Homo sapiens: one gene and its partners. The protein of the gene in region 1 interacts with the protein of each later gene in a pairwise test. Each region holds a gene or a part of one and is shown in the gene's direction. Other genes may lie near its edges.

The links. Proteins that work in one complex are often made in the same cells at the same time.
Region 2: the proteins of TFIP11 (region 1) and DISC1 interact in binary tests that used the Homo sapiens proteins (3 or more experiments, as listed by UniProt).
Region 3: the proteins of TFIP11 (region 1) and HMG20B interact in binary tests that used the Homo sapiens proteins (3 or more experiments, as listed by UniProt).
Region 4: the proteins of TFIP11 (region 1) and BHLHA9 interact in binary tests that used the Homo sapiens proteins (3 or more experiments, as listed by UniProt).

What each region holds. Positions count from the first base shown.
Region 1 is NC_000022.11:26,495,474-26,498,973, reverse strand, and holds part of TFIP11 (tuftelin-interacting protein 11), read left to right. Parts: coding exon 1-105; intron 106-2,084; coding exon 2,085-2,253; intron 2,254-2,657; coding exon 2,658-2,901; intron 2,902-3,500. UniProt on the Homo sapiens protein: Involved in pre-mRNA splicing, specifically in spliceosome disassembly during late-stage splicing events. Intron turnover seems to proceed through reactions in two lariat-intron associated complexes termed Intron Large (IL) and Intron Small (IS).
Region 2 is NC_000001.11:231,633,290-231,636,789, forward strand, and holds part of DISC1 (disrupted in schizophrenia 1 protein), read left to right. Parts: intron 1-3,500. UniProt on the Homo sapiens protein: Involved in the regulation of multiple aspects of embryonic and adult neurogenesis. Required for neural progenitor proliferation in the ventrical/subventrical zone during embryonic brain development and in the adult dentate gyrus of the hippocampus.
Region 3 is NC_000019.10:3,571,668-3,575,743, forward strand, and holds the start of HMG20B (SWI/SNF-related matrix-associated actin-dependent regulator of chromatin subfamily E member 1-related), read left to right. Parts: upstream 1-1,276; 5' UTR 1,277-1,327; exon of another isoform or gene 1,328-1,624; 5' UTR 1,625-1,642; coding exon 1,643-1,680; exon of another isoform or gene 1,681-2,024; coding exon 2,025-2,133; exon of another isoform or gene 2,134-2,150; intron 2,151-2,715; coding exon 2,716-2,919; intron 2,920-3,872; coding exon 3,873-3,993; intron 3,994-4,076. UniProt on the Homo sapiens protein: Required for correct progression through G2 phase of the cell cycle and entry into mitosis. Required for RCOR1/CoREST mediated repression of neuronal specific gene promoters.
Region 4 is NC_000017.11:1,269,215-1,272,315, forward strand, and holds BHLHA9 (class A basic helix-loop-helix protein 9), read left to right. Parts: upstream 1-1,229; 5' UTR 1,230-1,349; coding exon 1,350-2,057; 3' UTR 2,058-2,601; downstream 2,602-3,101. UniProt on the Homo sapiens protein: Transcription factor, which play a role in limb development. Is an essential player in the regulatory network governing transcription of genes implicated in limb morphogenesis.

The sequences.
Region 1 (3,500 bases):
CTGCACTTATGGCACCGAGATCATCTCTAAGTGGAAAAGCCTCCTAGAGAATGACCAGCTCTTGTCCCATGGCGGACAGGACCTCTCAGCAGATGCCTTTCACAGGTACACCACAGAGCAGGGCTCTGTACCCCAGCTCCTTTCTCCTGGGGGGTTGGGAAGGATTGCTGAAGGTGGGGGAAGGCAGCAGTGCTGGCCTTGATTAATTCTCTGCTCATGCTGACAGTGCTTTAGGAATTTAAATTCATTTGGCTATGAATTTTTTTTTTTTAATTTTTTTGAAATGTTTTATTTCCATAGGGTTTGGGGAACAGGTAGTATTTGGTTACATGAGTAAGTTCTTTAGTGGTGATTTGTGAGATTTTGGTGTACCCATCTCCTGAGAAGTATACATTGAATCCAATTTGTAGTCTTTTTTTTTTTTTTTTTTTTGAGATGGAGTCTCACTCTGTCACCAGGCTGGAGTGCAGTGGCGTGATCGCAGCTCACTGCAACCGCCAACTGCCTGGTTCAAGCGATTCTCCTGCCTCAGCCTCCCAAGTAGCTGGGATCACAGGCACACGCCACCACGCCCAGCTAATTTTTGTATTTTTAGTAGAGACAGGGTTTCACCATGTTGGCCAGAATGATCTCAATCTCCTGACCTCGTGATCCACCCGCCTTGGCCTCCAAAAAAATGCTGGGATTCCAGGCGTGAGCCACCGTGCCTGGTTCAATTTGTAGTCTTTTATCCCTCACCCCCTTCCCATCCTTTCCCCGAGTCCCCAAAGTCCATTGTGTCATTCTTATGCCTTTGCATCCTCATAACTTAGCTTCCACTTATAAGTGAGAACATAAGATGTTTGGTTTTCCATTCTTGAGTTACTTCACTTAGAATAATAGTCTCCAATTCCAACCAACTTGCTGCGAATGCCATTATTTCATTCCTTTTTATGGCTGAGTCATATTCCATTATATTTATACCACAGTTTCTTTATCCACTTGTTGATTGGTGGGCATTTGGGTTGGTTCCACATATTTGCAACTGCGAATTGTGCTGCTGTAAATTTGTGTGAGCAAGTATCTTTCTCGTATATGACTTTTTTTTTTTTTTTTTTTTGAGATGAAGTCTTGCTTTGTCGCCAGGCTGGAGTGCAGTGGCACGATCTCGGCTCACTGCAACCTCTGCCTCCCGGGTTCAAGCGATTCTCCTGCCTCAGCCTCTCGAGTAGCTGGGACTACAGGCGCTCGCCACCATGCCCAGCTAATTTTTGTATTTTTAGTAGAGACAGGGTTTCACCATGTTGGCCAGGATGGTCTCGATCTCTTGACCTCGTGATCCGCCTGCCTTGGCCTCCCAGAGTGCTGGAATTACAGGCGTGAGCCTCCGTGCCCAGCCATGACTTCTTTTCCTCTGGGTAGATACCCAGTAGTGGGATTGCTGGATCAAATGGTAGTTGTACTTTTAGTTCTCTAAGGAATCTCCACACTGTTTTCCATAGTGGTTGTACAATTACATTTGGCCATGAATTCAGCTGACACTTGTCAAATGTCTGTTGCGTATCATGCTTGTGCTAGGTGCTGGGCTTACCCTAGGAGCACAGCAGACAGCCTCTGTCTACAGTACAGCAAAAAAAGCAGATGGGAAGTAAGGTAGTGAACAAATAAAGGCAGGATGCACACCAGGTACAGCGATAGAGAACTGCAGGAGCAACCTACTTGGAACGGGGGTTGGCACAGAGGTCTTAGGGGAGGTGACGTTGAAATTGTGATAAGAGGGTGAGAGGCATCAGCTCATGAATAGAAGCCTATAGGTGGGAAAGCACTTGATACCTGGGAAGAGGCCCTTGTGACCCTAAAGCAGCTCTGCCAGGTGGATGGGCACTACCTAGGAGACTGAGGCCTCAGATTGAGAGGAGAGTCAAGAGAACAAGGAAGAGGCAGGCTCAGTCTGGCCAGTATGGTGACTGGCCTGATGGTTTCCTCTGATTGGATTTCCATGCTGTTGCATTTTTATTCCTGATTCTAGAGAGGCAGGTGGTGGTGGTGTACTTTGAAACCAGTCAGTGTAATTAACCAGCCTGTCCTCTGCCTTTCTCCCATAGGTTGATATGGGAAGTCTGGATGCCTTTTGTTCGAAATATTGTCACCCAGTGGCAGCCAAGGAACTGTGACCCGATGGTGGACTTTTTGGATAGTTGGGTGCACATTATTCCTGTGTGGATCTTAGATAACATACTGGACCAACTCATCTTCCCCAAGCTGCAAAAGGAGGTGGGATGAGAGTCATGGGAAACAGTCGTCATCACTAATCACAGGGACTTGTTCAGTCTGTGGCTTCATTATCTCAGTGCTGTTAAAACGCCTGGAATTAACGGAATTTGTCAACACAACTATTGACCTATAGTGTTAATTCCAGCCTTTTTCTCAGCACTTTTTCCCCCAAGCCACCCTCAGGAGGGAATTCATTTTCTTGATTTTGTCACTAAAATTAGAATTGTGCTGTTTCTGAGATGTAATCAAATGGATGGGCATATTTGTTTGGCAATGTACAAAGGACTGTGGGCCTCAGAGAGCACAGGGCCTCCTCCAGGGGCAGCTCTTGCCTTTAGCCACACAGGGGTGTTATGTGACTGCCCCACAGGCGACATGAACTGTTTCTCCTCCCCACTTCGCAGGTGGAAAACTGGAACCCGCTCACAGACACTGTTCCCATCCACTCTTGGATCCACCCATGGCTGCCCCTTATGCAGGCACGGCTGGAGCCACTCTATTCCCCCATCCGTAGTAAGCTGTCCAGCGCCCTGCAGAAGTGGCACCCCAGCGACTCCTCTGCCAAGCTCATCCTCCAGCCCTGGAAGGATGTCTTCACTCCTGGCTCCTGGGAAGCATTCATGGTCAAAAACATAGTGCCCAAGCTGGGTAAGGATAAGGGGAAATGCATTCCAAGCCCAGCAGCTTTGGTGCCCTGGTTTCTGTGGTTAGCAGTGATGATTTAAAGCATCGCCTTTATGTTCATGAAAGTGCTTAGTACACAATATTCCTTGCTGTGAAAAAGGTAACATTTTGTTCAGAGGCTGAACATAAATGTAACTTGGGTCCTTTCCGCTGTTTATTTACAACAGTCACTAATAGTCGACAGTGACAATATCGGACTCTGTGCCTTGTGGTTTTCCCGATTGGTTTTGGCTTCTGGTAATAGGACAGCCATTGGAGTTCTAAAATTTTTGTGGTATTTTACTCTAAATTATTAGGGAGTTATTTCCAGGTTAGCAAAAAAAATATATATACATACACACACACACACACACATATATGTATATATATACACACATGCATATACATGTATATATACACATGTATATACACATATATGTATATACACACATATATATGTATATATGTATACACACACACACATATATATATGTGTATATATATACACATATATATTTTAAGAATCGCTATGTCGGGAGCTTAAATTTGACCTTTAAAAGCAGATTACAGCCTGAGCAACATGG
Region 2 (3,500 bases), on another chromosome or scaffold:
ATCCATTGATGGAATAGGCTACCCCGAAAGGCAGAGAGCATTTTGTCATTGGAAGTATGTAGGGCAGTGTGGATGACTCTAGGGTGACTGTCATGAGGGTTCTGCACTGGGGAGGGGGCTGCGTTGGATGATGAATGGGAACCCTTCCAGTGCTAAGATGCTGTGATCGTTGTCCTGCAGGATTGGGATTGTGCAGGATTTGAGCTACTGTGTAAATTTCCTATTCCCTGCTCATTGGGCTTCCACATTTTGCTTCCTTCCCTTGCCCAGGTGGTTCCATTTCAGGAAGCCTAGATAGCTTCTTTGCAGTCATCTGCCCGAATGTCGTAGCTACTTTAACTCCCCAGAGCTGTACATGTCTAGGATTGATATTGATCATTAACACAATTATGTTCGCCCAGATGAACAAATCTACCAGGAGTAGAAACGTGCATTTGACAGGTGGCCTTGCATGGAGACTAATCGCTTTCACAGGTTGAAAGGTGAAATATCTAAAGTTTAATGAGTAAGTTGTGTCCTGAATGTGGAATCTGAGTTGAAATTGCATTTTGTGACATGTACGCCTACCTAACTTTTCTTTTTCATACCTGTCATCTTTTTTTTTTTTTTTTTGAAACGGAGTCTTGCTCTGTAGCCCAGGCTGGAGTGCAGTGGCGCAGTCTTGGCTCACTGCAACCTCCGCCTCCCAGGTTCAAGCAATTCTTCTGCCTCAGCCTCCCAAGTACCTGGGATTACAGGCATGCCCCACCACGTGCAGCTAATTTTTGTATTTTTAGTAGAGACAGAGTTTCACCATGTCGGCCAGGCTGGTCTTGAGCTCCTAAACTCAAGTGATCCGCCTGCCTCGGCTTCTCAAAGTGCTGGGATTACAGGAGTGAGCCACCGCGCCTGGCCTGTACCTGTCATCTCTTGGTTTGTGAGTGGATTGATTATTGGACTTTATTTTTAACACAGGAGAATGTGCGTGTTTTGCATTTGTAGTGAAAGCATGCCTCATCTTACTCCAACACTGATAGGAAAAGGAAGATTATTTTACAATGGTCAAGTGAAAAAAAAAGTAAATACAGAGATAAAACGGGGTTCTAATATTTCTGCTACACTGGAAACTTAGAGTTGCAAGAGCTGTTTTGGGATCACAAATCTTCTGAAGAAAAAAAGTTTGCGTATTTCAGTACAAGTCTTAATGTTTCCCTAGCGTCTTGTGTTATAGCTGCAGGCCAAGCAAAATGAAATGTGAGACACTGTCCTTGGGGATAGAGCATCTGTATTCAATTTAAACAGTAGATTTGGGGGCCTTAAATTGCCTCGACTCTATTAATCATTTTGTGTTCCTTAGTTTATAGAATTATCTCCTAGAGACATTAACTTATCCATTAATTTCTTCCATTGTGTTTATTTATTCATTCACAAACACTAGCACCTACTGTATACACAGTACAGTGTTGTACATTGCAGGGTACTTAAAAATGTAGAGTGCCAGGCATGGTGGTGCATGCCTATAGTCCCAGCTCCTTGGAAGGCTGGGGCGGGAGGATTGCTTGAGGCCAGGAGTTCAAGGTGGCAGTGCGCTATGCTTGTGCCTACAAATAGCCACTGCACTCCAGCCTGGACAACATAGCAAGACCCTGTCTCAAAAAAAAAATGAAAAAACTCCCCCAAAACCAAAAATGTAGATTGTTCTCAAGGGCCATCCAGTCTAGAGAGAACTAAGGGAGCCTGGTATTCTTAGGCCTTAGAGCTTAACAGCCACACCTAGGATGCCTCTTCAGAAGGTGTTCCAGCCCTTCCTGTGTCTTCCCAGTTCTGATACTGGATTATGTCATTATGTCTCTGTTGAGTAACTCCTTCCAATCAGGCCTGCACACTGCTGCCAGGACAGTCCTCACAAAGCACAGATCTGATTGGGTTATTGTTCCTCTGTGGAAGGGGCTTTCAGAGACTCATTATCTCCCCCCAAGCAAATTCTTAGCATCTCTTTTCAAGCTTTCCATACACTGGCCCTTAAACACTTAAAACGGACACTCTGGCCTTTTTATTATGCACATTATTCTGCCCACCGAGAATATTACAGAATCCGTCTTTCTTGCTCCCAATCTGAACGCATCAAAATGTCATCCCTCATTTACCACCTAGCAAATCAATAATGCTTCTCAGCCTTCCCTGGTTCTCTGGAATCGTCTGCTCTCTCCTTCTTCTGTTATAGTTTGTTATGGATATAACCTGTTTTTCTGACTCCAATGTAGACTTCTTCAACTCAAGGTTTCAGTTCTGGTTTATCTCCTTACTCCCTCATCTATGTAGTACACTTATGGTTTACTCTGTTCTCACTGGATTAGACCAAACTCTTAATTATATTTAGGATGTATTAATCCAATGCATAGATTAACCAAGTCTATTATTTTTATATCTTTTGAAACCAATCAGGAGTTTCAGAAGTTCAGTTCAGTTTAAATATTTATTGAGATGCATACACTATATAGTCAGATACTATGATAGCTCTTGAATATAAAAAATATATATACTTATGTTTGTATATATATGTGTAAATTGATATGTAAATTCAAATAGATAGTGTTGTCTACACCATTGAGAAGCCTATAGTCCCGTGGAAAAAAGAGAATTCATTCTCATGAAGTTTCCGGATATTGTTTCATCAGAAGGACTGGGCACATCGGGGTGTACTAAAATCATTAAGAAGTATTTAGCACCAGTAGATGCCTAATAAATACCTTACAGTCTAGATGGATGGATAGATGGAGGAAGAAAGAAGGGCTCCTTTAATTTATAATTTACCTATTGCTGGGTTTACTCCTAGGTATGACAATTTTGAAAACAATTTACTCAATGTTTATTTCCACACTGTGTATGAAATATGCTGCTCTTCATTCAGAAAGAGATATATAATTCTCCATTTGTAGAACACTGAGTTAATTTCATGGTTGTGATGTTGCTTTTGCTTACTTTCACCCACATTTTCTCCTCTGTAGGGTGGCAGCTCCGTAGGGTGGACACACGCTTTGGGAGACCTGCAGCTGTTTGTGTCTGGGGGCAATGGTGAAGGGCAGTGACTCATTGGCCCAGAACTCATGATCTCATCTCTCACCCAGCTGGCTAATCGGCCTTGGGGACAGGAGGATGAGCGCTGCACTCCCTCCTAATCATGCAGCTTTTGTATGTCTTTCTTTACTTGACTTAAATTGTAATTTGAATGGAAAAATGGACAAATTCTATCATTTGAATTTAACTTTTATATATTTTCTTGACTCTGATTTGGGATTATCTAAGTGCATTTATTCAAATATTTATTGTGTTTTTGAAACTTTTTTTGAAAAGCATAAGGTAATACATGATAAAAGATATTGTTATTACCCCTGTTTCTGCCATTTCAAGGAGTCAGAACAGGCTCAGTGGAAACAAAATGAGATGTCTTATGGGAGTTACTTTCCCTTCAGCTAATCTTGGTATGAATTTATATTGACACTACCTTTAAAATTTTATTC
Region 3 (4,076 bases), on another chromosome or scaffold:
ATGAATGTGTATTGAGCATCCACCATGGGCAATGCTGTGAACCAAACAGGCAGGCCACAGGGAGAAGCCGACTTATGGAGGCAAAAAAAAAATCAGAGAAGGCCTGGCTGAGCAAGTGACATTTAAGCGGACTTGAGGAAGAGGAAGTGGGCCGGGCGTGGGGGCTCACGTCTGTAATCCCACCACTTTGGGAGGCCGAGGCGGGTGGATCACGAGGTCAGGAGTTCAAGACCAGCCTGGCCAAGATGGTGAAACCCTGTCTCTACTAAAAATACAAAAATTAGCCGGGCGTGGTGGCAGGCGCGTGTAATCCCAGCTACTCGGGAGGGTGAGGCAGAGAATTGCTTGAACCCGGGAGGCAGAGGTTGCAGTGAGCCGAGATCCAGCCACTGCACTCCACCCTGGACGACAGGGTGAGACTCCGTCTCAAAAACAAAAGAGGAGGTGAGCAGCCCCAACTTGGGCCAGAAGCCTAGACTGCTGCTGGGAGGTCCCTGATCCACCAGAGCGGAGCCTCCTGACCCATCCTCACGAAGTCCTTGCCATCTCCCTTCACCACCATCTTTCCCCAAACACTTCCAGCCCAGCTCCCAACCCCACCCCCTGCCTGACCCACACCCAGTTCTCAGCTTCCCAGCATCCCAGTCTCTCTGTCCTGGATATCGTGTGATGTCCCCGTTGCACAGGGGGGAAAGCCGAGACCCCAGAGGGAGAGCAGCCCCTATGGCCAGAAGCCCTCGGATCCGGACGTCGGGGGCTCTAAACTGAGTAAATACATAGGAAACTTCTCCGCTAGGTTTTGCAGGATGTTAAGAACAGGTCCCACCTTGCCTAGGGCTGGGGACTGCCTCGCAGGACCTTAACCCTAGCAACCCACCTCCGTCCCCATGGCAACCGGGGCGGGGCCCGACCCGGATCCGCCGGTCGCCCCATCCGGCAGCGGCTGGGAGTCTTGCCTTCAGAGAGGGAGGAGGAGTCCGCGCCTCTCCTACTGGCCCTTTAAGAGGCTCCGCCCGGCAAGTCCGCCACTCGCTCCCGATTGGTCCCGAGCGCGGCCGAGCGCAGCCGAACTTGACGCACCGCCCGCAGCCTTCCTTACCAACCTCCCACGCGACTCAGCAACCTCCCCAACCAATCGCCGGCCGGCGCGCCGATCGGTATCTGCATGGGCTCGCCCGGGGGGAAGGTCTCACCCAATGGGACCGTTCGCCGAGGCCTTCATTAGCATGCCGGGGGCGGGGAGGGGCGGGGCGGCCGACGGGGGCGGGCTGCGGGCGGTTGGTTGGAGCGTCGCGCAGTCGGGAGGTCCGGGAAAGTTTCTTTGGAGGTGAAAACAGCCGCGGAACTCCGGGCCCTGAGAGGGGGCGGGGGTGCAGGGGTCCCAGGGCCGGGCCGGGGTCTTTCCTGGCCCGGGGGAAACCGGCCCAGGCCTCCCGGGGGGGGCAATCGCCCAACAAAGGATTCTTGGGGCGCCCGCCCTCGAGGACTTCCCTGCCCCTGGATCCGGCCCCCCCAGCGCTCCGGGCCCGGCATCCCGGGGCTCTCCATCGCGGGGTACCCCAGTTCGCGGTCTGCCATCGGGCAGCCCGGGCGCTACTCACCTCCGCCCGCGTCCGTGTTCCAGGTCCGGCCCGGAGCGGCCATGTCCCACGGCCCCAAGCAGCCCGGCGCGGCCGCCGCGTGAGTGCACTGATCCCCTCCCCACGCCCTCGCTACTTTCCCGGCTGCAGCCCTAGCTCCTGAACCCCTGACCCAGTCCCTCCCGCCGGAGTCTTGACTCCCCCACCTGGGTCAGGGGGCTTCTCCCTCCACCCAATTCTGCACCCCCCACCTCGGCCTCCAGTCCCTCCCAGGAGCCCCGCTTGTCCCACCTTCCCCGGATACTGACCCCATCAGACCCTGCCTCCTCGGGCTCATGCACTCTCGCTGCAGCCCCGCCGTCGGGGGTCAAAACGCCCTGGGGTGGGCTTTTGGGGGAGGGGAGATTCTTGGGACGGGGCTGACCGCGGTATCCTTGGCTCCAGGCCGGCGGGCGGCAAGGCTCCGGGCCAGCATGGGGGCTTCGTGGTGACTGTCAAGCAAGAGCGCGGCGAGGGTCCACGCGCGGGCGAGAAGGGGTCCCACGAGGAGGAGGTGAGAGTCCCTGCGCTGAGCTGGGGGAGGCCCCGGGCTCCCGCCCCAGCCTCGAAGCCCCGCCCCAGGCTGGATTTGAATTGCTTGTGGCTCCGCCCACAGCCCATTTTCCTCTGGAAGCTGAGACCCCGCCCCGTGCCAGCTGCCACGCCCCTGACAGGTCCTCTGCCACTCTAAGTCCAGGCCCCGCCCACCGCACAATGCCAGCTCTGCCCACTCTAAGGTCCCGCCCACTTCCACTCCTTGGGGGCGGCACCCTCCCCTTGGTCCTGTGGGCCCGTTCTCCAGCAGAAAACCACGCCCACCAAGCAGAGGCCACGCCCACAACCGAAGTCAACGCCAACCCTGTACTCAAACCTCGGCCCATAGTTCCTCAGATCCCCTCACCCCTGGCCAGGGATCCCTCTAACCCACCGTGTCCCGACTGCTGACCGGGCCCTACCTCCATCTTTTCCGGGTTCTTCCTCCCAGCTAGGCCCCGCCCCCATCCCCGCCCATACGCGTTAGGCCCCGCCCATGCCCCTCTGAGCCCTGCCCCAGTACGCCAGGCCCCCCTCCCAACGACGCAGCCCGGTTCTGCAGCCGGTGAAGAAACGCGGCTGGCCCAAGGGCAAGAAGCGGAAGAAGATTCTGCCGAATGGGCCCAAGGCACCGGTCACGGGCTACGTGCGCTTCCTGAACGAGCGGCGCGAGCAGATCCGCACGCGCCACCCGGATCTGCCCTTTCCCGAGATCACCAAGATGCTGGGCGCCGAGTGGAGCAAGCTGCAGCCAACGGAAAAGCAGGTGGGCGGGGCGGGGCGCCGAGCAGGGCTGGCGGGGTCCACGGACTACCCCCCAGTAGCCCCGACCCCCAAAGGATTCCACGTGCAGGGTTTTTCCTTCTTCCTGGAGAAATGCCCACCCATAACCAACTTTTTTTTTTTTTTTTTTTGTGAGATGGAGTCTTGCTCTGTTGCCCAGGCTGGAGTGCAGTGGCGTGATCTCAGCTCACTGCAACCTCCGCCTCCCGGCTTCAAGCAATTCTCCTGTCTCAGCCTCTCAGGTAGCTGGGATTACAGGCGCGTGCTACCATGCCCTGCTAATTTTTGTATTTTTAGTAGAAATGGGGTTTCGCCATGTTGGCCAGGCTGGTCTCGAACTCTTGACCTCAAATGATCCGCCCACCTCAGCCTCCCAAAGTATTGATATTAAAGGCGTTAGCCACCGTGGCCAGCCCATGACCAGCTTTTGGGGGCGCGGCTAGCAAGAGGCAAGACAGATTGAAAACTGGATGACCAACAAAGATATGTCTAAGAAGTCAGGATGGGGCCTGGATTTTTTGCGAAACCCGATTTTCATATCCTGTTAGTTTAAAAATTGCAAAAACATCACGGAAATGTAACAAAAGCCATCACTGCTTTGCATCCCTGTAAGTGAGATTTCAAAGAGAGAAACGGGTGCGGGAGGGAGTCCAGGCATCCGCATACGCTGGAGGTTGGGTTCCTGCCCATGACTCTGGCGTCCGGGAGTGGTTTGTCAGGGCTGGAGGTGGGGAAGAGTCCGGGGCATGGGAAGTGAGGTGGGAGCTCGGAGGTCCCTGAGCAACAGGCTGAGGAGCCGGTTCTGTCTGCCTGGAGGGAATAGGGAGCTATAGAAGGTTCAGGAGAGGGGAGGGTGCTGTGAAAGCAGAGTGATAAAGACTGGATCCTGGCGTTGGAGGCTTCCCCTGCTTCAAGCCTTCTGGTGCTGCCCCCCAGCGGTACCTGGATGAGGCCGAGAGAGAGAAGCAGCAGTACATGAAGGAGCTGCGGGCGTACCAGCAGTCTGAAGCCTATAAGATGTGCACGGAGAAGATCCAGGAGAAGAAGATCAAGAAAGGTGGGAGGGGTCGGGCGCGGTGGCTCACGCCTGTCATCCCAGCACTTTGGGAGGCCGAGGCGGGTGTATCACCTGAGGTCAGA
Region 4 (3,101 bases), on another chromosome or scaffold:
ATGTGAACCACACACCCATTCCAATGCCATAGGCCTTGGCATCTTAGAGGCATTTGGATTGTGACTGGGAATGAGTGGCCTTCAGGCGCTCCAAATAACTCAGCTGTGGATGCCGGAAATTCTACTGGGGGTCTTTCTTTGGGAATAAACATCATCTTTTTTCTGAGACCCTCTTTCAAATGCAAATCCCTGGGGGAAGAGGACAGAGGCTGCTCATTGAGTTCATAACCTGGCAGGGCTGTGTCACAAGATGGGGCTGCCCGAGGGCTCTGGACCCCAAAGATGCCCCTGATGTGGACCCAGGGCTGCAAAGGGATCTTCCCCGTCACCCTCTGCTGCTGACTCATCCCAGCTCTGCCTGCAGAAGGGGAGTCAAAGGGCAGTGGAGGGAGAGTCAGGCCCAACCAAAACCCGAACCCCAATTGCAGCCAGCCGCCCTCCATAGCTGAAAAAGCCGGAAGCTCTGGGTCAGCTTTACCTGCAGGGCCCTGCGCCTCCCATATGAGTCCTGCCGGGACACTCATGCTTTTCCTCAGTGACATCTCTGTGGTTGCCCACGGGACTTGACAAGAACTTTCAAGGTTTTGTTGTTGTTTTTGTTGTTGTTTTTCTGAGACGGAGTCTCGTTCTGTCTCCCAGGCTAGAGTGCAGTGGTGCGATCTCGGCTCACTGCAACCTCCAGCTCCTGGGCTCAAGCCATTCTCCTGCCTCAGCCTCCCGAGTAACTGGGATTACAGGCGCCTGCCACCACGCCCGGCTAATTTTTGTGTTTTTAGTAGACGGGGTTTTATATACTCTGTTGGCCAGGCTGGTCTCGAACTCCTGAACTCAAGTGATCCGCCCGCCTCGGCCTCCCAAACTGCTGGGATGACAGGCGTGAGCCCCAGTGCCCGGCCCTCTGCCTCTTTTTATTCCTATCAGCTCTCCTGCTAGAAGCCAAACTTAGCACCTTATCTGGGAATGGGGAGGAAGAATGTGGAACCCAGACACCCCACAGCGGCCCCAGAGCTAGGCAGGGCAAGGTCCCCGGGGCAGCGTGGCCGGGCTGCCCGTCTGGTCCCCGCTTACAAGAACCTGCAAGCTTCCCTCCTTGCTTTCCTTCTTCCCCTCGGTTCCTCCCCCGCCGACCTACCTGGAGGCCGATAATAAAGCAGGAGGAGGGAGATGGATGGACGGGAGGGCGGGGCGCCGCGTGGTGCCATAAAGCCCAGCTGGAAGGGGCCTGTCTCGGGAGTGTCCAGCCCCAGGAGCCGGGGACCGTCCGCGTCGCGAGCCGGGCCAAGGCAGTGGGCAGAGGGCAGAGGGCAGAGGGCCGGGGCTGGGGCAGAGGGCGAGTGCCCGGGAAGGCCATGCTGCGGGGCGCGCCAGGACTAGGCCTCACGGCGCGGAAGGGGGCCGAGGACTCTGCGGAGGACTTGGGGGGCCCCTGCCCCGAGCCCGGGGGCGATTCGGGGGTGCTGGGGGCGAACGGCGCTTCCTGCAGCCGGGGCGAGGCGGAGGAGCCGGCGGGCAGGAGGCGCGCGCGGCCGGTGCGGTCCAAGGCGCGGCGCATGGCCGCCAACGTGCGGGAGCGCAAGCGCATCCTAGACTACAACGAGGCCTTCAACGCGCTGCGCCGGGCGCTGCGGCACGACCTGGGCGGCAAGAGGCTCTCCAAGATCGCCACGCTGCGCAGGGCCATCCACCGCATCGCCGCGCTCTCCCTGGTCCTGCGCGCCAGCCCCGCGCCCCGCGGGCCCTGCGGACACCTGGAGTGCCACGGCCCGGCCGCGCGCGGGGACACCGGGGACACAGGCGCCAGCCCCCCGCCGCCTGCAGGGCCCAGCCTCGCGCGCCCAGACGCCGCCCGCCCCTCGGTGCCGTCCGCGCCCCGCTGCGCCTCGTGCCCCCCGCACGCGCCCCTGGCACGGCCCAGTGCGGTGGCCGAGGGGCCGGGCCTAGCACAGGCCTCCGGGGGAAGCTGGCGCCGCTGTCCGGGGGCTTCCTCTGCCGGGCCGCCTCCCTGGCCGCGGGGCTACCTGCGATCCGCCCCCGGGATGGGCCATCCGCGCTCCTGACCGGCCTCGAGGCACCGGCTGGGCTGCAGGGAGGCCGGGCTGGCAGCTGGACTATAAAACCCGGGACTGCAAAGGCGTCTTGGACAGAGCAGAACTGGACCGGCTGAGACCTGGCGTGGAAGAGAAGGAGCTCGCCAGAGAGAAGGAGCTCCGGGACCCGGGGTTGCGCCCCCACATCCCAGCCTGGGGCAGAGAGAAGGAGCTCCGGGGCCTGGGGCTGCGCCCCCACATCCCAGCCTAGGGAGGCAGTTGCCAGAAAGGCTCAGGATCCTGAACTCATCTTGGACTCGAACTCGTCTTGGAATGCCGCCTTCGCACTCCTGCGCCTCCGAGCCCTGTGTGTTCTCGATGCTTTTAGGAGAGTGAGGGCTTTGAGGCAGGAGGTGTGGGAGCGTGGGAATGCGGGTGGGGCCTGCTGTGGTCTCGTGGGCACATGAGTGCGGAGTCCCCTTCCCTGCCTGCGCTGCTGCCCAAGCCTGATCCGGGAGAGGCAGGATCCGGGAGAGGCAGGCAGGGGCAGCAGCCAAATAAAAGGAAAAACTCATTTCTCTCCGATACCACGACTCCAGTGGGCCCCGTGGCCCAGGGTGGCAGGAACGCCTGAGGGCTGGGGGCTCTCCTTGGAATGCTGGGCGGGGCCTAAGGCCCACAGGTAGGCGCCTGGGGGAACTCATTCATGGCAAGACCCCAGGTGTGGCTGAGCACTGTGGGAGCCCAAGGGGAGGAAAGAGACATCCAGAGACCCCTCCTCCCTGAGTCCCCTGGGGTGGAAGAGGATATCAGGAGAGGGGTCACGGGGCCTGGGAGTCTAAGGATGGGGTCAGCCCCGTCTCTGGACCTCCCTGCAGAGCTGCCTGGAAGCAGCCACAGTGAAGGGGGACTCTGGCCAGGTCTCAGGGAAGGAGGCCAAGGGCAGGGCTAGGATTGGGGGCCGGTAAGTCCTGCGTGCATGTACCCCGAGCGACAGGCAGGAAGAGCTCCCAGGGAACCGTGGGCCAGGGCCCCCATAATGAGGGGCCGACTTGGAACCCAGGAAGGATTCTG